4 linked regions of the Homo sapiens genome follow. The protein of the gene in region 1 interacts with the protein of each later gene in a pairwise test. Each region holds a gene or a part of one and is shown in the gene's direction. Other genes may lie near its edges.

Region 1 (7,475 bases):
AAGGCCTGGAGAAATGAAGTGTCATGGTATCTTCCACAAACAGCTAAATATGTGGCCCATGTCAAATTTGAAGTGTGGGACAAAGCAACAGTAAACGCATGAGAGTAAGGCAGGGCCCAGATCACAAAAGCCTGGGGTATCATACTGAGGACTTTGGATTTAATCCCGTAGTTCAGAGACCATATGCTAGCCTTCATGGTATAATTTGGAGTGCAACATTCTTTTATTGATTCTAAACTCCTCTAGAAAGGACATGGTAAACTCTCTCATTCCCTTCACTGGAGTCTCTCTTACTCCTCTTTGTCTTGAACAAAGCCACTTAAAATATTTAACTTACCAGCCTGGTTCCTGACACCATTTGACTTTAGAATGTGGATAGAGGGAGCCATAGAAAACTTTTTACCAGGAGAACAACATGATCAGATGGGTGCTTTAGAAAGATCACTATTGCACAAATGAGCAGGGTGGGTTGGAAGGATGTGGAAATGGACACAGGGAAGAAAGTTAAGAATGGATGAAACACGAGGCTCTGAAGGCAATGGCAAGGAGAGATCCAGGAGATGTTGAGAAGGAAACGTTACTAGGATATTGTACATGATTTAAGGAGGGTGGGGAGTCTCTCACAGGTAGCAAGTCCTCTCCTTTCTCACCTTCTCAACCTCTCAATTTAAGGCTTCTGTTCAAGTTGTCCCCCCTCACTGAAACTGCAGCCCACAGTGAAATTTTCCTCCCTCTAAACTAGTAGTTCTCAAAGTTTACTGTTAATCAAAATCACCTGAAGGGCTTGTTACCACACAGATTGCTGGGTCCCACCTTTAAATGTGGAGCTTCAGAATTTGTTTTTCTGACAAGTTTCCTGCTGATGCTGCTGTTGCTTGTCCAACCACTGCTCTAAACTTATGACTTCTATGAAAGTAGGGACCATACTTGTCTCCTTCACAGTGCTGAGCAACTAGTAGTCACTTCATAAATACATGATGAATGAATGAATTATGGAATGAATAAATCAACATTTATCCTTACATTTGATAGTACACATGCACTTTTTGTGCATTTCTCACCAAATGACTTTTGCGAAAACCAATGCCATAGCATTAATATTGTGATAACAATGTACAGTCCATAAAATCATGGAAATCACCATTTTAAAAAAATCATCTGAAATTTAAGTCCTTCCAAATAACTCTTTAGCAACACTTCTGTTAAAGTTCTTGAGTAACTGTAATCTCTTTTGAATATTGCCATTTATAAAGCTATTAAGGGAATCCATTATATAAAGGGACTTGGTCTCTCATTTTCCTGGCTGCTTCCCCCACTTCAGTCAAGTTGGAGATATTCTAATTCTTCCATTTCCTTTAGAAAAGCTGAATAAGCTACCCTAACTTTTATACCCATCGTTGTTTCAAACAACCAAAGAATGGGTACTAAATCAGCATTGAAATTCTTGTTCTTTTATTTATTTATTTTTGTTCCAAAATAAAGATTTTTTTTTTCCCCAGGATTTCACCTTTATTAAAAACATCATTTTTAGAGTTGACATATCATGGCGCTATTCTTTTTTTTTTTTGAGGTAGAGTCCCGCTCTGTCACCCAGGCTGGAGTGCAGTAGGGCAACCTCAGCTCACTGCAACCTCTGCCTCCTGGGTTCAAGCGATTCTCCTGCCTCTCAGCCTCCCAAGTAGCTGGGACTCCAGGTGTGCACTAACACGCCTGGCTAACACTATTCTTTAATAAAACAAAAAAGAAAGAACTCTGTAAATTTTCCCCACGATTGGTTTGGTGATATTAAAAAGTTAACCTCCATAAAAACCATTAGCAAGGGGAGGAGTTGAAGTCTTTCAGGAATTTGTATAGTGATTCACTATTGTGTGACTACATTGAGTGATTAACCAACAACTCTATTCAGTACCTGCTGTGTGCAAAGCAGTCTGAGACAGATGGCACAAGAGACTTTTAATCAAATAGGGAAGACAAAACTAATGATAACTTACAGTGAGATAGCGTTTTAGTTGAGGAAACAAACTATTATGAAGAGAAAAACAAAAGTCATTTTGTTCCCCCACAAAAGTACCCTATGACCATTCTATCTGTCAGGGGAAAGCCTTAGCTGACAGCTTTCTGCCCTTCACTTGACACCTCTGCTTCAATACCAGAGCATTTCCACTTTGGTGTTTTGTATATAGACAATCTTCCTATGTTTTTGTTTTTGTTTTTTTTTTGTAGAGATGGGGTCTTGCCATGTTGCCCAGGCTGGTCTTGAACTCCTGGGCTCAAGCGATCCACCTACCTCGGCCTCCCAAAGTATTGGGATTACAGGCGTGAGCCACCATGTCCAGCCCCTAAAATTTTATTTGAAAAAAAAAAAAAAGTTCTGTTGCATTTTTAAAAGTTACAAGTACTGTATAATATATACTATTCTCATATAATTAGTAAAGGATAAATAAATGTATCAATGGAAAAAGAAACCCAAATTAAGAGGAATAAAGTTTGTGATAGCTATATCTCCAGACCCAAGCCCCCAATCCATTGTGTAGTTGGACGAGACTACATTTCCCAGACTCTCCCCTTTTATCTTTTTATGTGTTTTTAAATTTTTTTTTTATTTTTTGTAAATCTGGCCTTACTGAAATACCCCCTTTTATCTTGATGAGGCCTCATTCTTAGTAATGATATGGTAGAGAAAATGCTGTGTGTCATTTCTGGGCTCATGTGGTTAAAAGTAGGTGTGACTTTTTTTTTTTTTTTTTTTTTTTTGTCCAAGCAGGCTGCCTGGATTTGTAAATAAAATTTCACTAGAACATAACCATGCCCATTTATTTTCAAGTATTGTCTGTGGAGCAACAGCTGCAGAGGCAGAGTTAAATAGTTGAGACAGACCTTATGGCTCACAAAGCCTAAAACACTATGTGGCCCTTTACAGAAAATGTTTCTTGACCCCTGTTCTAAGGTATGGAAGGAGACTGGGTCCACTGACATTATGACACCTGCATTATTAAAGTGTTATATGAGCCAGAAAGAAATTACTCTTGTGTTAAGCCCCTGAAAATTTTAGTTACAGACGGTAGTAACATACTACTATCTGTTGAACACACCATACTTGGAAGGTGGTCCAAAGATTTACATATTTATTAAAAGCGTACGTATATTTGGGAGACGAATAGTCATTGAACTGGATGTCATAGCTTAGGGTCTTGTTCGGAGATTCTGGAAGAAAATTTCAATTCTTAAAAGTAAACAGATGAAACATCAAGAAATTTAAAAGAGGTTATTCAGGCAAATCACTTATCTTAAGAAATAAAGTCAAGAAAAATACTTCGTGAGGTTGAAAAGGAATTTCTGCAAAGAAGGAAGCCACTGGTAAAGTACACTTTCAAGAACATGGTGGGGAAGAGACTGGATTAAAGTAGTAAGGGATGCATCTTCTAAGAGGAATAAAAGACCTTGATCACATGATCTACCTAAAAAACAAGTCACAAAATATTACTTACCCTTACTGTGTGGGATGCAAATTTTTATTCCCTTCCCGCCCCCGACATTCTATAATATTGCGTAATTATTATGCATGTGTTTTACGCTGGTCACCACGCGGTAAACCGAATCCACAACCCATTATTATGTCGCAACCTATGGTTTAAAAATACACTTCCTTACAGAGGAATCATATACTAGTTGAGCTGGAACTTAGATTTTCAGTCATTAGCCAAATTCTGAAAAGAATCCATATAACAAACCCAGCAGAGTTTATAGCCATGGTTTTGTTTTTGACGTTTGTTGCTCCTTCCTTCTGTAGTCTTTCATCCACATCTATGTAGAACGTCCTGACAATCTGCGAAGAGAAGGCTCTAAGGTGGTTTTATTTGTGGGGAAAGGAGGGAGGTACATGCGGTTTCTCCACCTTAATAGCTGGATCAATTAGGCTGGCCCCGGAGCGCAAAGGGATCCGGGTTTCTGAGAGGCACGTGCCAGCACCATTCGCCCGATACCTCTAGACCAAAGCCGGCCTCCCCTCCAGCCGAGCTCCTCCGTCCTAAAGGACTCGACATCCCCCTCCTCCAGGCCCACACCCCTCAGCCCCGGAGCCCAGGCCCCGCCTCTCCCTGCGGAACCCCTTCCCAACCTGTACGACCAGGCCCCAACTCTGGGTCGAAGCACCTCGCCCCTGCCGGCCGAGGCCCCCCACCTTCTTCCGAACAGCCCCTTGCCCCCCGCGAAGGGGCAGCCGTAGCTCCCAGCCGAGCTCCCCCGCTCCTGGCCCCGGTCCCCGACCCCGCCCCAGGCCCCCGACCCCGCCCCTGCCGGCCGAAGACCCCGCCCCTGCCGGCCGAGGACCCCGCCCCTGCCGGCCGAGGACCCCGCCCCTGCCGGCCGAGGACCCCGCCCCTGCCGGCCGAGGACCCCGCCCCTGCCGGTGGCTGCGGTAGCTGCTGCGCGCTGAGGCGCCTGCTCAGTGTGGGACGCGGAGAGCGAGGGGCGGCGGCGGCGCCCGCTGGCGCTCAAGCATGGCGGCGGCGGCATTGGGCAGCTCCTCAGGCTCGGCGTCCCCGGCCGTGGCTGAGCTCTGCCAGAACACCCCGGAGACCTTTTTGGAGGCCTCCAAGCTGCTGCTCACCTATGCTGACAACATCCTCAGGTGCAGGGCAACGGGGTCGGACGGCGGGTACCGGGGTGGGTGGGCCGCGGCACCTTGTTCGGCCAGGGACTGGGGCGTCCGGCCTGAGCTTCAGAGGGCAGCGACGCCCGGACAGACCGGGACCTGGAGCTGGTTCTGCTCCTAACGTCCGAGCCCGCCGGCCAGGGGCCTCGGGACCCGGCCAAGTCCCACCCCCGCTCGAGAAAAGGAAGTTTCTTTGCAGTTGTGACTTGGCACCTGCAGTCAGGGTGCTGCGGGTGAACTGGAGTCCCGGAAGCGGGGCCGGGCGGAGGAGAGGTAGGAAGGCGTGCTTCAGACACTGCCGCTCTTCTCGTCGTTTAACGGCCTCAGATATCGGGACACAACGGTAACCGCACCGCGCGTGTCATTCCCCCTGCGTGCATTTTTCGAGCGGAGTGGCTTACATTTCCACATACTTATCAGAAGTTACTCACTGACAAAGTGATGTTTTCTTCCCATGTTGAGACTATCCGAGTACTAAAGCATAATGCTTCTGAAGTGGTGGGTTTTAAAATTTTTAATTTTTTTTCTGCCCACTTTTGTTGATTGAAACATTATAGTATTTTGAAGTTACAGTTTTTATATTAATACCTGGATTCTACTATGTAACATAACCCTTTAAGAATTCGTGGAGGTAATCGCCTTGGATGAGAGTAATTTCCTTCATTCTCCTGTCAGCAAAATTGCACTTCTAGAGGTCTAAGGGACCTTGCAGATTTTGGGAATTGGGAGGCAAGTTTGATTATTCATTTTGAATAAGTACCCACCTCAACTCTTCAGATCAAATGATCTGAAGGGACATGGTGTGGGGGGGTAGGGAAATGGAACTGAGGTTAAAGGAGAGCCACTTGCTTTAGGGGTGTTACCTCATTTATCAGGTCACCGTGATTAATTAGGTTCTCTGTTCCCCTCAGCCCCTGGTGCATTAAGTGTTTGGTATATTGTCATGAAGTCTAAAAGGAAATTCTCAGTTTCAAGGTTATAGGTTTCACGTGACCCAATTTTAGACATTAGTTACATGTGCAGTTTTTAAAATCCATGTCAGTAATATTTCATTTAGGCAATGGTAATGATTTTTAAAGTAAATTGAAGGGAAAATATATTGAGCCCTTATTTTGTGGCAGATGCTATGAAAGATGCAACATGTGGCCTGTTCACAGCTACATAATTGTGACCTGTGTGGGGACCACCTTCGTGCTCTGTGACACCTTCTCAACTCACCTTTTTTACTCTTTGAGGCCTTACAGCTCTTCACAGTACAAGGATGCCAAGGGACTCCATAAATGAACTGATAGGCTGGGTTCTCCAGAGCCCATTAGCTGAGACTTACCACCTGGAAAGCCACCAGGCTATTTAAAACCCCACTAGTCAGAAAAGAGAGGTGGCCTTGTAATGAAGCCTCACTTCTGCTTTAAATCTAGTGAAACCCAAAATGCTGAGGTTTAGTATGAGGGGGAAACCTTTGCATGCAAATAATGACATTTAGCATCATAATCTTCATTATGAATGTTTACTAATGGCTCGTTGCTGATTTTCGTTTTTGAGACGGAGTTTGCTCTTGTTGATGAGGCTGGAGTGCAGTGGCGCGATCTTGACTCACTGCAACCTCCGCCTCACAGCTTCAAGATTCTGAAAGATGAGGGGTGTGACAATGAGCGCAAAGGATAGTGGACACACTGGAATAATGCTGAGAAATTAAGAGTTTAAGAAAGTCTTTGTGCGTTGCTTTTCCAAGGATAGGAAAGAGGATATGATGGGTTTGAAGTCTAATGTCCCTACAGCCCTCTAAGTCTTTGAGGGCTTTAGGGTCAGGCCTTTGGTATCAGTCTATACACAAAACCACGGTCAGTTTACTCAACATACTTAATAAGAAAAAGAATTTGAGGAACTGGATGTGACTGTCATTGCTGGAGCCTGTTTGCAGTATACTTTTACTGAGAAAAATAGATTAATGTGAGGTCCAGAGATGATATAAAAATAAAATTGCTCACTGGGCACGGTGGCTCACACCTGTAACCCCAGCACTGTGGGAGGCCAAGGTGGGCGGATTGCTTGAGCTTAGGAGTTTGAGACCAGCCTGGGCAACATGGCTAAACCCCGTCTCTACAAAAAAATTAAAAAATTAGCCAAGCGTGGTGGCAGACACCTGTAGTCCCAGCTACTTGGAGGGCAGAGGTGGGAGGATGGCTTGAGCCCATAATCATGCCACTGCATTCTAGCTTTGATGGCGAAGTGAGACCTTTCTCAAAAAAGAAAAAAAAAATGCTCACTAGAAACTAAAGAGGAAAATCTATATTGTATATCAATAGTTAAATGGTAACAACATATATCAAAATAACAAAGGCCAGTCGAAGTGGCTCCAACCTGTAGTACCAGGGCTTTAGGACACCCCAGGTAGAAGGATTGCAGCCGGGGCAACACAGTGAGACCCCATCTCTTAATAAAAAAAAAAAATAGCCAGGCGTGGTGGCTCACCTGTAGTCCTAGCTACTTCAGAGGCTGAGGCAGAGGATTGTTGAGCCCAGGAGTTCTAAGCAGCAATGAGCTTTGATGGCGTCATTGCACTCTAGCCGGGGTGACAGAGCAACACTTTGTTTTTTAAAAAACAAAACAAAAACTATATGAGAACTGATGTGTATTTTATAAGAATTTTTAAACAATTGTGAAAGCAGGAAGAAACTAGAAAATTAGCCCAGAGAAAGACCCAGCATGTAGAGATCTGAAAGCTGTGAGGAAAAGAATAGATTAAAATAGCTCAAGCAGTTTTGAACCAGTAGGATATATCATCCTGGTGGTACTGACATGTTTATCACCCTGTGAAATA
Region 2 (6,846 bases), on another chromosome or scaffold:
GAGGCGCCCCCATCCATCCCGGCACCGCCCCTAGGGAAGCCCCAAGTTTATACCGCAAGGGACCAACTCGCCGCGACTCGGCGTCCACCCTCAATGCTGACACAGTTCAGGCCCGGCAAACGAAGCAGGGCGGGGCTGGGCATTAGGGGCGCCGCCTGCCGAAGATGCGGTACCACGTGCGCGCTGTACGGACCCCGAATCCTGTGAGTCCAGCTCCGGCCACAGGCTTTCGAAGAACTGGGCCCTCGGCTTTAGGGCGGGGCCTCTTCTTTGCCTCCTGCCTGGATGTCGACTCCCACCCACGCTCTGCGCTAGCTCCGGGGCCGAGCCCCAGTGCCAGAGTCGTTCCCTGAGGCTTCTCCCAGGGCTCGCACAGAGGGAGGCCCAGTGGCGGACGGCGATGGCCCAGCCTTTGCTGGATTCCGGGCTAGGGGTCTGGGGAAGAGGGGCATCGGGCCGGAAATGAGCCCCAGTTCGGGCTCCACGAGCCCTGGAGCCCCCAACGATGTTTCCTGGCTGAGTTAAAGAGCCCGACCTTGGCCCCTCGCCTGGCGATGTCGGCCTCCCCCTCCCTTGCCCGCAGCGTCTTAGCTGGAGGGCAGCTCGCAGCGTGCCTAGGCCAACCCCTTCTGCGTCTCTTTTCTTTTCCTGTCACTCTCTGTTCTCGGCTTCTGCTTTCTCCTTCTCACAGAATGCCAGAGCGCCCAGGGGCCTGGAGGAGCTTCCGCACCAGCCCCTTTTCTGGGCCTCCAATTTGCCTTCCCCACAGTCTAGTCTCCCCCCGTTCCATATTTCTTTCTGTTTAGACTCTGCTCGTATTTCCTCGCCGATTGAGCCAGCATGTGTCTCTGCCTCTAAATCTTCTCCCTCGTGTAACATTAAACAAACCAAGGTGTGTTGAGCTGGAGAAGTCCTGGCAACGTGGACAGAAGGAATGGCTTATTCTGTCCTGGGGACATTTCCGGTCACTACAGTTCGGTTTCCCCTTGAGGCGGCGCCAGCTCCGGTTCCGCCCCGCAGGCCGCTGCTACGGAGGCGCCCGCTCGCTGTCTCGCTCTCTGGCGGTGTCTGCGTGTGTTCGGGTGTGGGCACATGTATCTGTGCTTGCAAACCAGGGCGGGCTCTCCAAACCGAAAGCTGCGCGGAGTTGGGTTTCTGGGATTCTAGGGCTGCGGGCAAGGGAGATGGGGGATTTTCCCGGGATCCCGACTCCGATCTGAGCCTAGACTCCCCGCGTTCTGGCCCCTTGTCCCGTATCTCTAGGGCCGCAGTGTCAATTCCGTGTCCTCCGAAGTGGTTCGTCACCTGCTCCGCCGAGGGGAGCCGCCCCTTGGGCCAACGCTGCGGGAGTCCGGACGGTCCGAAGCATGCTGGCCAGGCGCAAGGGGAGACCGACTCACAGGGGAGAGGGTGGGCAAGGGGACGGCGGCTGGGCCTCGGTACCCCGCGAGGGGGGCTCTGCGATTCTGACCCAGCAGCGGCGCCTCCGGGCCCGCGAGGTTTTGACGACCAGCGGGCGCCCCCTCGGGAACCACATTTGTTTCCCGCTGGTCTCGAGCGTCCAGAGCGCGAAGCGGCGGAGCACGGCGAACCTACGATTCGTGATGCTTGGCCTAATCCTCTGCCCTTCATGGGTGCGGGCAGGAACGGAGTAGCGGCTGATGTCCCCTCCCTAATCCCAAAGCCCCACAAAAGCCAAAATACACACGCAAACTCTCACCAGCGCATCTCACAAACACAAAAACTAAAGACAACACATGAAAATATAACCCGATCCCCCACCAAAACGTACAGTTCAAAAAAATAAAATTCAAATCGAAGGAAACAAAACACACACAACACGAAATTCCCTAAGGCAACACACACACAGACGACACCCACTCACACCAAATCAAAACACATCTAAACACCGCGGAGAAGGAAAAGCCTTACAAACGACACACAAAAAGACAGCCTACAAGGACAAAGTACAAAATTACACAAAATCAAAACTCACCCCAAAGACCAGGACTTACAGAGCAAAACCCGCTAAAATCAATCCCACGAAAAAACAACACGCAAAACACCCGAAACAAAAGAATATCCCATGGAAAAATGAAAACTCACAGAAAACAAACAAAAACAAAACAAGCCCTCTAAATGGAAACAACAACAACAACAAAACACCAACACCCCCCGCCCCCAGCCCGGGGTGAAATGTCAATTCCGGGAGGGCTTTTGATCTCCAGGCGCGGACAGGCCGCTCCTCCCAGGCGCTGCCTCCCGGCGCGGGCGAGGCGGGAGGGCGGGAAGCCTGGGCTGGGGCTGGGCTGCGGAGGGAAAGAGTCGAGCACTCGGAGATGGCCAAAAATCAAATCTCGGGGTAGGGACACGGGCCCGCAGGCTGCAGGGAGGAGGCGGCGCTGGGGAACTGCGCAGACCACTTGGTGGGGGGGCCGCCCGGGAATCCACAGCCACATTTCCGATTGTGGCGAAATCTGCTCAGTGGATATGTGATGTCCAGTTGCCGCCGGGGGCCCCCCTTTCCTCGAGCTCTAGGCTCTTCCCCCTAGGTTGCGACCCAGCCTCGTGACCACCCCCTCCAAAAAACAAACAACACTCTTGCTGAGGACGATTCACTCTCCAAAACTGCCATTGTCCGGCGGGCCAGGAGTCCTCCTACGGAGCGCTCCCCCGCCCTGGAGAACCTTTCCCCTGCGACCACCCCGCTGCAGGGCCCCACAGGCTTTCAGTGGCTAGGCCCAGCAGCTGAACTAACTCAAGGCTGGGGAGGGGAACAGGGAGGGGAGGCTTGAGTCTGGCCCGAAGAGAGAGGGCTGGACATGCCACACCTCTGCTCGGTCTCTGTGGATCTGATTTCCTCTCTGGAATCAAGTCCTGGGGCTCTGGGACTCCACAACGTCTCAGGGCTCGAGGGCAATGCGATTCCACTTATGGGCCGGGGTAAGGTGTCTGGAACTCCCGCCAATCTCCAGAAACTACTGAGATGTTCTGCTCTGCCCGGGTGCTCCAAAGCGGAAGCCCGGATTTCATCTCCAGTATTTCACAGCTTAACCTCCATGCTCTGGGCCAGAATGGAACTTGATGTGGGGAGGGGTTCTGGGACTAGAAGACTGGATGGGACCTGGGGGCTTTAGGGATCTGGCGCTGCCCTAGGGTCAGGGGCCCAGCAATAGTCAGGACCCCAACAAATTGGGGTGGGGGTTGGATGGCTGGGAACCCTGGGGTCGGGCGCCGCCCTAGGGGTGAATCGGAGTAAACCGGAACGTCGCCTCGGTGCCTGGCAACACTGCCAGCCTTTGCAACCCCTTTCAAAAGCACCTGCTTGGCCGAGCAGTTAATTTCTTCAAAAACAAAAACCCGGCCTGCGCTCGTCTAAGCAGCGGGGTTTGCACATGGAGATGTCACAGGCCCCGCGCACAGCGCAGAGGGCCGCGACCCCCAAGCGCATGTCTTAATAGAAGGTGCGGCTGGAAGACCCGGGCTCCCGGGCTCCGCTTCGGTCTGCCCCTTCCCGTAGGTGCGCTGGCTAGCGCCCGGCGCAGGCTGAAGCCTTCCTTCCCTCCCCCCAACCCCTATAAAAGTCTGGGGCGGCGCGGCAGCAGCACTGCTGCTCTCCCGGCTTCCCGCTCTACTCCGGCCGGGCCGGGTCCGCCACGTCTGGCGCGCTGAGCAGGCCCGGCCGCGCAGCGCCTACCCTTTCCTCGCTCCGGGCCGGCAGTGTGGGGCGGCGCGCTGGGGGCGCGGCGTGTCTGGGGACATCTTGTGATGTTGGCGAGAACAGGACATGATCTCACATGGCGAGAAGCTCTTTAGTTCCTTAATCATTTCACGGTGCCTTCGGACGCTTTTTTTCCACCTAAAACGTTTAGTTTCAGCTCAGTGATCAGCTACCCCAGCTCGGCGGGGGAGCGGAAGGCTTGAATTATTCCGACCTGTGAGCGGCCCCTGGCACCAAAAAAAAAAAAAAAAAAAAAAAAAAAAGAAAAAAAAAGGCACAAAAAAGTGGAAACTTTTCCCTGTCCATTCCATCAAGTCCTGAAAAATCAAAATGGATTTAGAGAAAAATTATCCGACTCCTCGGACCAGCAGGACAGGTAGGACCGCGATACGGGCTCCAGATGTGCAAACTCCGGGACACGGCCAGGCCTTGGTCCCCACGCAGGGTGACCCTGGAGGAGGAGGGGGCGCGCCGCATTTTCGTAGAGACTGTCTAACTGCGGCGTGTTTGTTATGTTTTTTCACCTATCTGTTCACACACTTCTGCATCAGTCCAAATATCTGTGAGTTTGTCTGTGTTTTTCTCTGTTTCTGAATGTTCACGCTGGCGTCCTTCCGGGGGTCTGCAAGTTAGGGCCTGTGTGTTTATATAAGGGACTCAGTGTGTTCATTACAGTATATGTATTTTTAAAAGATGTAAAAATATATGAGTTTGTGTCCAAAAGTTGTTTGCCTGTGTGTGTGTGTGTGTGTGTGTGTGTGTATCTTTATACTCGTGGGGTATTCGTGTGTGTTTATAAGTTAGTACTTGTGTATATTCTTTTGGGTATCCAAAATGTGTGTCTACTATGAGTGTTATTTATGTAATTCGGAAATATCTGAGTGTACATCCACTATTTAAAGGGTCTGCATTCACCTGTTATATCCCAAGTGATTTTTGGATGTGAGAAAGAAGTGGCTACACTGACCTTTCCATTTTTGGATGTCAACGGCTGTCCGATGCATACACGCCAATGTTCACATTGTGTCTCTAGGCAAACTCCTAGACGTGGGTCTGGGGCCTATGGAGATCCGTGGTGTTTAGCATGTGCATTGTAAGGCCCAGTGTCCATTCTATTGGGAGATAGGACCAGGAATGAAGGTGTGAATTCAGGGCATGCAGCCTCTTGGTGTGCAGTGAGCACTGTTCAGGCTACCATTTGTACAAACAGGTCTCCTGTGGCAGGCACAACCTTGCAGATGACAGCGGACACCTGTAGGGTTAGTTGTGACATTTCTAGGGACCCCCAGCCTACATTCACTTTCACCTAGACAAGCCTCTGACACTGGCGTGTGTATTTGTGTGTACACACAGACACACACACACTGTGTCCTCAGGTTTTATCCTGTGGGTGCCGCACCAGTGGAGGAGAGCACAGTGGGTGGATGCATGTGCATAGTCTGGGCATTCAGCTCTAGGGCCTGTATGCGCACAGGCCTCCCTGGCTTAGGTCCCCATGTGCCTCCCACAGGCCTGAGAAGTAGGTAGCAGGATGTGTTTATGTCTGAGAGGAGATAGCAGGGACAGTAGGCCTCCATCTGCCCTGAGGCATGAATCAGGTATGGGGGGCCTCTTTCACTCACTAGGCCACTGTGTAACTCCCACACAAACACTCTCTTGGCCCTGGCAAGAAGCCCCCTTCCCCCATCTCTGTGCCCTCTGAGAACCCCCATCTCTCCTCCAGCCTCAAATACAAGCCTAAGAGCAAAAAGGATAAACTTAGACCCCAAGCCCAGGACAACTTCTGGGGCATAACTGTGTTTCCAAAATTGTGGCTGGAGAGAAGTGAGGGCAGAGATCTGAGGCAGAAGAGTGCTCCCAGGATGAGGGCTCAGGAAAAGTTACCTGGAAACTCCTCTTCTCCATCCTCAATTCTCAGAAGGCCCTTCTCCCTGGCAGTGGGCTTCTCAGCAGATGGACTTTCAGAGAGACCTGAGCCTGGAAGTGGGTGTTGTGTATGTGTGGGGAATGAGGCGGGGATGTGTGAGTGTCATGGAGAGGGTCTGCGCAGTCCTCGGGCTGGCTCTCCCGACAAGCTGTGTAGAAGAATGTAATTCATGGCGGTCGATGGGCTCTTTGATTAGTTCAATTGCCTGAATAATCATTTAATCAATAAAGCATTTTATTCCTCTGCATAGCTGGACTGGGTGGGGCTTGGGGTGGGGTGAGATACGGGAGCCCTAGGCTGGCCAAGCCTTAAAATCTAGAGAGCCACGCCCCCTCCTCACTGATGGGTTGGGGAAGAGCTGCCTGCCTGGAAAAGGGCGACAGTTCAAGTGAGACTGCACTTCCATCTGTCCACTCCAGCCTGGGTCAGGGCTGGAGAAGAGAGGGAAGCTGAGAAGCTGTCCAAGCTGGTGCTCAAAGGGTTGTCCAGGTCTGGTTCCTATGAGAGCTTCTTCCTTCTCCCAACTTCTGGGTATTTCATGGGCCAATAGACTTCCTTTTTCTTCCTTCAGAACCATATTCCATTTCTTACCCCAACCTCAGTTTCCCTATCTGCCCAATGGGGAGGGAGTGTGTCCTTCTGGCTCTAAGCCCAAAATAAGGTCAGGTCAACACTAAGCAGGGAGCCACTTAAGGACCTTCTCCTCTAATGTCTTCCTTGCTGTAGGGAAAGGAAACTCAGAGGTTCGGAGAGGGGAAGGGACTTGTTCGAGATCATAAAGCATGAGTAAGGGAGGGAATAGGAATGGAAGGTGACCTCTCTGCCCTTAGACCTCCTGTTCCTGCTGGGAGAAGAGACAGATTCCCCCCTCTCTCCATGGACCCCCTTGGAGAAAAACTACTACTTGGACAAGTAGTAGTCTCTCCTTGCCATGGGAACCCTTGAGTCCTTAGATCCGGGCAGACCTGGATGGATTGAGTACTTTCCCACTGGGCATTGACATCCAGTCTCACAGTTCTGGAATGAGCCTGGAATGGAGTGATAGATATTAATAACCCCCATCCATGAAGCTTCATCTCACAGAGCCTAAGAAGTCACATCTCAGGATTTGTTCTCTGTATTAAACAAACGGGGAAGCAGAGGCTTTAGAAGGGGCTGCCTGTCTCAAGTCTTTGGGAGAGAGAGTAGTCCCAGCGCC
Region 3 (7,039 bases), on another chromosome or scaffold:
ATTTCTGAATGCTAATGGGGTACTTAACTATGAGTAATTCTATTTTAAATCTCAAGGTGATGATGATTAATAGTATCTCAGGGCACTAAATAAACATGTATTAAATATGAGCGTATGTTTAAAGGGGGAGTTTTTAATGCAGTCTTTAAGGCACAACTGCTTCTCACTTGAATTCTTTAACTGAGATTAAGGAGTCCTTGGCATTTTAAGCAAAGTCATTTCTTAGGTAAAGTTCCCCCAGAGACCACTTGAACTTTTGCAAGTCTTAAAACAATGGGTGGTTCCATTTGATGGTTCAGAATAGAAAGGAGAGTGTTGATCCTCTACACTGGTATGAAAAAAACTGTATAAGGAGATGGAGGATGCTGGATATCATAGTGCCCGAGAATCACCTGGGGCCCTTGTCAAACACAGATTCTAACTCAGGACACCTGGGAGAGGACCCGAGCTGCATTTCTCACAGCTACCAGATGCTGCACGCTGGCAAGGTTTTGGGATGCACTGAATCCAGTTCAGCATGTTTACTGAGCATATACCACATAGAGAGCCCAGATGATAAAAAAATGAGAAGATGGGTTGTACCTGCCCTTGAGGAGCTAACAAGGTGAGGTGGCAGGGAGAGAGAGAGGGATTGTAAACTGAAAATGAGGTTCTGGGATGCCATTCTCTGGGGTGGTGGCCAGAAAGGGGCCCAGGAAAGGAGAGTTGCTGGTAGGGCTTCCACATTGCTGACCTTGACCTGTAGTCATATTTGAATGGAGAGCCTTGTGACTTGGCAAGAAATAAAATGCAGATTTTGAAGTCAGACAGACCTGGGGTAGCCTCCCAGCTCAGCTATGGCAACTTTTAACCTGAGACTCAGAGTCCTTGTCAGAAAAACAGTGCAAATGATGCTTACCTTGCCAAGTTTGTAGAATTACCAGTAAAGGACGCGTGTTAGGCCTAACAAAAGTGATTGCTTTTATTACTGTTGATAGGAGAGAGGAGGCTGGAAAGCAAGGAGGACGAAGAGGTTACTAAAATATGTTCCATGTAGTTCACCAATTAGAGATTCAATTTGGTTTACCAGCAAACCCAAGGCCGGCCGTGGAGAACCGGGCCAGGGCTGGAGGGCAGGCAGCTGTGGAAGCTAATCAGAGGCAAAATGGAAAATTATTGGGAGCATGCTTATCTCCACCCTCTCCTGCAGTCCCTGGCTTCTGGTTTGCTTTGTTGATAGCCCTTCCTAGGATATTTTCATCTGAAGCTTTTCTTGGTACTTAAGCTGTAGGTTCTGTTGATCAAGACTGCTAGTGGCAATCAAGCGCTCTTTAAAAATGTAGTGGAGAGGACAAACACCTCTCCTCTTTGAGGGGCATTGGTCTATTCTGTGGTGGGTCACTTTCCAGGATCAAAGCCATCAATCTGTCTTTCCACCATAGTACGAGTTACTTGAAACTAGTGCCGAGCGTGTTGGAATTCACCTGGGGTGCCTTTTATGCTTTGCACTCTAAGATATTGCTTCCTCCTGCCATCTAGGAGAGATGGATATTGCAAGGCAATGGTGTCCTTCACCCTGATATTAGGAGGGGTCACCTGGGTGGCCCTGAAAACACTTCAACCAACATCACTCTGATTTTTTAAAATATATTTTGGGATTCCATTTATTATTTGCAAAGGCGATTTCTCTGCTACCATTTGCCTTCCACGCTCCCTGAAAGTAAATCTTGAAAACCAAGTTCTAAGAGAATGGCAATGGCAGTTTGATGTTTAGGGGGAAGGAAAAGCAGAGGAACCCCCTGGAGCCAAGGCAGGCCTGGGTGAGGGTGGAGACGAGAGAGGGAAAGGAAGGCATCGTCAGGCATGGGAGTACCAGGATGGAAATGGGAGCAGTGGTGGGGGCTGAAGCTGAGAGGTTGGACCCTAGGACTCAATTTGTGGACTTTGTTGCTTTGCTGAAGGCCGTGGCAGATAATGTTCCCAGACCACTGAAAATCATCCAGGCTTCCAGAAAACACAGGCCCATCTAAAGACAGACAGGTGACGAGGTGACAGAACCTAGTGGCGTGATTCTTCTAGCCTCTTCTGAGCCAAAAATGACATGCACAATTTTATGAATGATATTTGTGCCCCTTGGTGATAAAATATTAAGAGCTCGAGGTCATCTGAAAATTATTGGTTTTTTGTTTATAAAAGTACATAGTTTTTGGAAAAGATAGAAAAGAAGGAAAAAACCCCACAATTTCAAGATATATTTTCCGTTCAGTGTTTTTTCTATGCATTGAAATATTTTTATATTAGTTTATCTTAAAAAGCACATGGATATAATCTTGTAAAAATTTTCAAATAGCACAGAACCATTTCTAGTAGAAAGAAAAAAAATTCCCTTCATCCTTGTGGCCTACCCATAATCATCGCCCTATCTTTTATTTGCCTAGCAGAAACTGGATTTTGTACAGTAGACTGCCAACCCACACCTGCCTCTGGAGGTTTATCAGATTGGCCACTCAACCCTGGTGAGGGTGGGGCTGCTGCCCTTGCCAGTGACTGGCTCAGGGTGAGCATGCGGACCCTGTTCTAGCCAATAAAATGTGAGGGTGGGCCACTGGGAGGCTTCTGGGAAAGTTTCCCTGCTCTCAAAAGAGACAAGGAAGGAAACAGTCCTTTCCTTCCACTAGATACTGTGATATGTGGCCATAATGCCTGCAAACTGGGCAGCCATCAGCCACCAGAGGGGCTGGGCCAGGTCTCAGCTGACCTGCGGAAGAATGCAAAGGTGAAGAAGGGCAGGGGGCGGGGAGGTCTCCGTGGTGCCCTTGACTTTCTGAATTACACAAAGAAGAGTCTGTTTTTGAACATGTGTGAGATCATGAAACCATTACCAGATGAAGCAAACTGAGCTAGTTTTTCTGTTGTAGCCAAAAGCATCCCATAACTCTCCACCTTTCTCAGGAGGTAATGACTGATAACCATGGGGCATGTTCTGCTAGTCATTTTTGGCGCATTTACATATACACACACATATGTACACTTTTAAAAACTAAGGCCGGGTGCACTGACTCACGCCTGTAATCCCAGCACTTTGGGAGGCCGAGGCGGGCGGATCACGAGGTCAGGAGTTCGAGACAATCCTGGCCAACATGGTGAAACCCTGTCTCTACTAAAAATATAAAAATTAGCTGGGCATGGTGGCACATGTCTGTAATCCTGGCTACTCAGGAGGCTGAGGCAGGAGAATCACTTGAACCAGCGAGTCGGAGGTTGAAGTGAGCCAAGATCCTGCCACTGCACTCCAGCCTGGCAACAGAGCAAGACTTTGTCTCAAAAAAATAAAATTAAACTAAAAAATAAAAACAAAAACTGAACTCATTTTATGTATATTATTTAGCAACTTAATATGGCATGGATTTTTAATGACATACCTTTTTCTTTATTTTTAAAGGCTACAGAGTATTATTCAGAAGTACAAATAGGACGTTATTTAACCCATCCCTATTAATAAATAATCTATTGAGTTGACTGTTACAGTTTTTGTATTAACTTCCTTATCTGTATATCTTTATGTACATTTCAAGATTTTCTAGGTCAGGGATTATTAGGCCTGGGTAAAGGCACACCTGTTTGAAATATTGATAGATGCTGCCAAATTGGGGGCTAAAAAAAGCTATGCCTGTTAACCTCCCCATCTACAGTGTGTAAGGCCGCCTTGTCTCCATATCTTAACTAACACAAGATATTTTCCAGCTTTTAAATCTTTTTTGTGCATTTTCACATGTTTGAGGTAGTACCATTTATAGTTTTCTATTCTGATTGTTTTGACGTGAACATAAGCATTTTTCCATGACATAAACAATTTAAATTAAATTTTATTGGCTACATAATAGTTATACTTGTTTTGGGAGTGTATCGATGGTACATGAAGACGCAAAGGGAAATATTTGAAATAGAGGTTGTCTATGAAAATTAAGTGGCTATGATCGACCTTGCAGTAAACCTGAAAGATTTTCTGGAAATGGTGTTGGGAGACACACCCCTCCAGTGATATGTTTCCAAGAAAACCCTGAGGAGATGACCTTCCAGGCCTTTCTCAATCCAGTCAGATGGTAGGCTGCCCCAAGCATTTCTAAGAAGCTTTGTTGCTTTTAGAATCCATCAGATTTACAGTCAGACAGGTTCTAAATTCAGTTCTCTGAATGTACAGTAGTTACGTAAACACTTCGTACATTGCATGAGACAGCTGAAAAGTAAATTTGCTGTATTCTTTTAATTTTTTCGACTTTTATTTTAGATTCAGGGGATACATGTGCAGGTTTGTTACCTGGGTATATTGCATGATACTGAGGTGTGGGGTATGAATGATCCTATCACCCAGGTACTGATGTAGTACCCAATAGTTAGGTTTTCAGTCCTTATCCCCTGGCTCCCTGCTCCCTCCAGTAGTCTTCAGTACCTGTTGTTGCCATCTTTATGTCCACAAGTACCCAATGTTTAGCTACCACTTATAAGTGAGAACATGCAGTATTTGGTTTTCTATTTCTGCATTAATTCACTTAGGATAATGGCCTCCAGCTGCATCCACGTTGCTGTAAAGGACATGGCTTCATTCTTTTTATGGCTGCATAGTATTCCATAGTATATATGTAACACATTTTCTTTATCCAGTTCACTGTTGATGGGCATCTAGGTTGATTCCATGTCCAGTAGACATGGACATGGAATCACGATTGCTATTGTGAATAGTGCTGTGATGAACATGTGAATGCATATATCTTTTTGGTAAAATGATTTGTTTTCTTTTGGATAGATACTACTATCAGTAGTGGGATGGCTGGGTCAAATTAGTAGCTCTGTTTTAAGTTCTTTGAGAAAGCTCCAAACTGCATTCCACAGTGGCTGAACTAATTTACATTCCAGTCAACAGTGCATTAGTGTTCTCTTGTCTCCACAGTCTCTCCAGCATGTGTTTTTTGACTTTTTAGTAATAGCCATTCTGGCTGGTGTGAGATGGTACCTTATTGAGGTTTTGATTTGCATTTATCTGATGATTAGTGATATGGAGCATTTTTTTCATGTTTGTATGTCTTCTTTTGAGAAGTGTCTGTTCATGTATTTTGCCTATTTTTAAATATGGTTTTTGTTTTTTTTGCTTGTTCAGTTGTTTAAGTTCCTTATAGATTCTGGATATTAGACCTTTGTTGAATGAATAGTTTGTAAATATGTTCTCCCATTTATGTAGGTTGTCTGTTTACTCTGTTGATAGGTTCTTTTTCTGTGCAGAAGCTCTTTAGTTTAATTAGGTCCCACTTGTTAATTTTTGTTTTTGTTGCAATGGCTTTTGAGGACTTTCTTTCCCAAGGCCAGTGTCCAGACTGATGTTTCCTAGGCTTTTCTCTAGGATTCTTATGATTGAAGTCTTACATTTAAATCCTTAATTCATCTTCAGTTAATTTTTGTATATGGTGAAAGGTAGGGGTCCAGTTTCATTCTTCTGCATATGGCTAGCTAAATATCCTAGCCCCATTTACTGAAGAGAGAGTCCTTTCCCCATTGCTTATTTTTGTCAACTTTGTTGATGCTCAGATGGCTGCAGGTGTGTGGCTTTATTTCTGAGTCCTCTCTTCTATTCCATTGGTATATGTGCCTGTTTTTGTACCAGTACCATGCTGTTTTGGTTACTGTAGCCTTATAGTATAGTTAGAAGTTGGGTAATATGATGTCTCCAGCTTCGTTCTTTCTGCTTAGGATTCCTTTGGCTATTCAAGCTCTTTTTTGGTTCCCTATGAATTTTAGAAGAGTTTTTTCTAGTTCTGTGAAAAATGACATTGGTTGTTTGATAGGAATAGCACTGAATCTGTAGATTGCTTTGGGCAGTATGAGCATTTTAATAATATTGATTCTTCCAATCCATGAGCATGGAATGTTTCTCCATTTGTTTCTGTCATCTATGTTTTCTTTTAGAAGTGTTTTATAGTTCTCATTGTAGAGATCTTTCACCTCTTTGGTTAGCTGTATTCCTATGTATTTTATATTTTAATGGCTGCTGCAAATGGAACTGTGTGTGTTTTGTTGTTTTTTTTTTTTTTTTGAGACAGAGTCTCATTCTGTCGCCCAGGCTGGATTGCAGTGGCGCAATCTCAGCTCACTACAACCTCAGCCTCCTGAGTAGTTGGGACTACAGGCACGCACCACCATGCCTGGCTAATTTTTGTATTTTTAGTAGAGATGAGGTTTTGCCATGTTGGCCAGGCTGGTCTCGAACTCCTGACCTCAAGTGATCCGCCCGCCTGATCCCAGCACTTTGGAACTGTGTTCTTGATTTGGCTCTCAGTTTGGACGTTATTGGTGTGAAATAATGTAGAAATGCTACTAATTTTTGCACATTGATTTTGTATCCTGAAACTTTATCGAAGTCATTTGTCAGTTCTAGGGGCCTTTTGGTGGAGTTTTTCGGGGTTTTCTAGCCATAGAATCATATCAGCAGCAAAGAGAGAGAGTCTGACTTCTTCGTTTCCTATTTGGATGCCTTTACTTTCTTTCTGTTGCCTGATTACTCTGACTAGCACTTCCAGTACTATGTTGAATAGAAGTGGTGAGAGTGGGCATCCTCATCTTGTTCCAGTTATCCAGGGGAATGCTCTTAAAACATTTTCAATTCTGCTAGAGAAGAGAGGAAGGCAAATGAAATGGATAAAACTCATAAGAAATGTTAATCACCCTTCAGGCAAGGGCACATTTGAAAAGCACCACTCTTGGGCATGGACCTCTGATCATCCTTCTACTTCCTCACTCCTAAGTGATAGTGCATAGCCCAGGAACACCCACCACCTGCTGTCCTCCAATAGGAAAGGAAAAGGCAAGATGACAAAAGAAAAAACCTTCTCAGAGTCAACAGACCACACAAGAAAAAGATACCTTGAAAGCAAAAACAACCTATCAGTAGACTTCCTGGGGACATCATGAGGCAGCCAGCATAGCTCTTTGGTCTTTGTTGCATGCATTGAGGCATCCCAAATATCCTAACGCGAATAGAATTGTTAGTCATCAGACTACGTGCAATAAC
Region 4 (2,680 bases), on another chromosome or scaffold:
TTAAAGATTCAGATTCATCACAAATAAATTTACATCACTCATAGGTGCTCAAAAGTCACAATCCATTATTACAGCATCAACTCTAAATCCAAAATCTTATCTGAGTCTCACCAACTCAAAAGTCTCAAATCTCACATTGAAGCCATCTAAATTAAGTTTGGGAGAGGATCTGTGTGTGATTTCTGGGACATAATTCCAACTGTGCACTTGTGAACCTAGAAAACAAGTTATCTGTTCCCAAGTATGATGGCATGACAGGCAGACAATAATAGTTACACACGTTCCTGTTCAAAAAGCAGAAACAGATGGAAAAAGGAGCCATCAGCACCAATCAATTTACAAAACCAGCGAGGCACCCTTCTTTAAGTTTCAAGGCCTGGGAGTAATCTTCAGCTCACTGCTGTTCTCTGGGCTTGTTGACTGTCTCAGAGTCATCTTTACTTTTTCACAAAAGGTAGCACACGTTTGCAGCTGAGTATCAACTTATCAGTTTGTTCTTCTTTTATATTCTCTAAAGCTTTCTGTTAAAAATGGTGGTGCTTCTGCTGCTATAACGTTGTCAAGAAACTTGTGGGTCTTTTACATATGTCACAGGGATGCACTCATTTAGATAGGAGGCTCCTCACGTATCTTTCCTGGAAAATCCTGTCTCTGTTTTTGGCTTTTTCTGAAATAGCTGAGAGGATCTATGATTCACACCCTTAATATCTTCAAAGAGTCTTGTGTGTGACCTGATATTCAGACCTTTTGATGTTTCTGAAGTATTAGCAAAAGGTTATACAGCCATATCTTCATCACTTTCTCTAGAGTAAAGGCTGTCCTGACGGTGAATCTTAGTTTTAGTGGCTTTTGCCATTTGAATAGGCCGCGAATTTCCCAAATCATCAAGTCCTGGTTTCTTTATATTTAACAGGTCTTCCCTCAATCTACCTCTTTCCACATTTTACTATAATCAGCAAGAAGACAGCAGGCTGTACCTTCCACAGCTTGCTTGGAAATATCCTCAGCTAAATATTGAAGTCATCACTTAAAAGTTCTGCTTTACACATAACGGCAGGACACAACTCAGCTTAGCTTTTCGCCACTATGTAACAAGGACTCCTTTCCTCCACTTCTCCAGTAACATATTCCTCATTTTTTACCAACAGTCTATTCATGATGATTTAGATATTCTATGGCAATCGAGGTATTCTCTATTATGCTCCTTTCTTCAAGGCCGCCCTAGCATTAACATTCCATATTTCTACTAACAGTCTGTTTAAGGCAGTTTAGCTTCTTTTCTGGCATGCTCCTCAGAATTCTTCCAGCCTCCACCTACTGCCCAATTCCAGAGCCACTTTTCTACTTTTAGGTATTTGTTACAGCAGCACCTCAAGTACCTAGAAAACTCTTTTATGCCTGCTTCTCTGCCAGATGACTTGAATATGGTACTAGATTTGGAATTCACCTTTCTCCAGGGTCACTGTTTATTTCAAAGAGGTGAATTTACCTGTGCTAGGGTTTTCACACTGGGAGTGCTACCAGAACTACCACAGGATGAAAGTGGTGAGCCCACCACTGCAGAGAAGTTTTCTCAGTGCCGTAATATAGAGGAATTCTCAAAATAAGCCCTACTCCTTTTCACTTACTGAAAACAACTTGGATAATGTGTAACAGCCAGCCCCATTTCAAAAAGATTACCAGGGGTAAAACAACTTTTTCATGGGTCAAAATCATCTTCCGAAGAAAATGATTTCTTAAAAGAATTGAACATTGTAAATCAAAGGGCATTGTCCTGTTTTGGATTAACAAAACAGGAAAAATAACCAATCCTTGTAAAATTATTTGAAATTTTCTTGTTTTTATCAGTTGAGTGCCTATAGATGCACATACAAAAACAACTGCCATTTTTGTATATAATAGTCTTCCAAGATAGAGATTTACATTAGGAGAGAATTAAACATCCAGGAGGGATGAACAGTATTTCATGTGTGCTATGTAGTGTTTTGCTTCATTGAGAGTCATTTTCATGAATTATTTTTACTACTGCAGTCATCTTAAATTTATAATCATCTCAAAAAAGATGTCACAATGAACAGACAACCATCTGTGAGGTCAGTCATTTTGCATGATGTATGTAATCAAAAAGTTTGAAATGTCTGCTTACTAATAAAGAATGTTTTCACTGAAACTTATTGGAAAGGTTTTTCAAATTTTCTTTGATTTGTAGTTTTGAGTCCTGAATAGATTGTTTTAACATGAATAACATTTCCTGTGGTTTAATTTCCCTTGGCGCACCTTTGTCAGGGACAGGGAAGGAACTGGTTGTAGCATATTATCTGAATATCCTGTTACTGTTTCTGTTTTTATTCTACCCAAATAAAAAGGTTCAGGTGCTTCTTTTTTGCCACAATGGATTTCTGAAAACCTTGTCACAACTGTGAAAGGAAAGCAAATCTTGGGACCCCAGAATCACTAAGCTAAAGGGAAAAGTCAAGCTGGAAACTGCTTAGTGCAAACCTGCCTCCCATTCATTCTATTCAGTTATCTCTGCTCACTGAGATAAAGGCCTGTCTGATTGCCTCCTTTGGAAGGGCTCATCAGAAACTCAAAAGAATGCAACCATTTGTCTCTTACCTACCTGTGCCCTGGAAGTCCTCTCCCACACTTCGAGTTGTCCTACCTTTCCATATTGATCCAA

What was found.
Region 2: the proteins of NGLY1 (region 1) and PAX5 interact in binary tests that used the Homo sapiens proteins (3 or more experiments, as listed by UniProt).
Region 3: the proteins of NGLY1 (region 1) and NPAS2 interact in binary tests that used the Homo sapiens proteins (3 or more experiments, as listed by UniProt).
Region 4: the proteins of NGLY1 (region 1) and UBXN2B interact in binary tests that used the Homo sapiens proteins (3 or more experiments, as listed by UniProt).

The regions. Positions count from the first base shown.
Region 1 is NC_000003.12:25,780,415-25,787,889, reverse strand, and holds the start of NGLY1 (peptide-N(4)-(N-acetyl-beta-glucosaminyl)asparagine amidase), read left to right. Parts: upstream 1-4,446; 5' UTR 4,447-4,499; coding exon 4,500-4,630; intron 4,631-5,017; exon of another isoform or gene 5,018-5,152; intron 5,153-7,475. UniProt on the Homo sapiens protein: Specifically deglycosylates the denatured form of N-linked glycoproteins in the cytoplasm and assists their proteasome-mediated degradation. Cleaves the beta-aspartyl-glucosamine (GlcNAc) of the glycan and the amide side chain of Asn, converting Asn to Asp.
Region 2 is NC_000009.12:37,031,237-37,038,082, reverse strand, and holds the start of PAX5 (paired box protein Pax-5), read left to right. Parts: upstream 1-3,814; 5' UTR 3,815-4,051; coding exon 4,052-4,097; intron 4,098-6,749; exon of another isoform or gene 6,750-6,846. UniProt on the Homo sapiens protein: Transcription factor that plays an essential role in commitment of lymphoid progenitors to the B-lymphocyte lineage. Fulfills a dual role by repressing B-lineage inappropriate genes and simultaneously activating B-lineage-specific genes.
Region 3 is NC_000002.12:100,823,139-100,830,177, forward strand, and holds part of NPAS2 (neuronal PAS domain-containing protein 2), read left to right. Parts: intron 1-7,039. UniProt on the Homo sapiens protein: Transcriptional activator which forms a core component of the circadian clock.
Region 4 is NC_000008.11:58,449,328-58,452,007, forward strand, and holds the end of UBXN2B (UBX domain-containing protein 2B), read left to right. Parts: 3' UTR 1-2,174; downstream 2,175-2,680. UniProt on the Homo sapiens protein: Adapter protein required for Golgi and endoplasmic reticulum biogenesis. Involved in Golgi and endoplasmic reticulum maintenance during interphase and in their reassembly at the end of mitosis.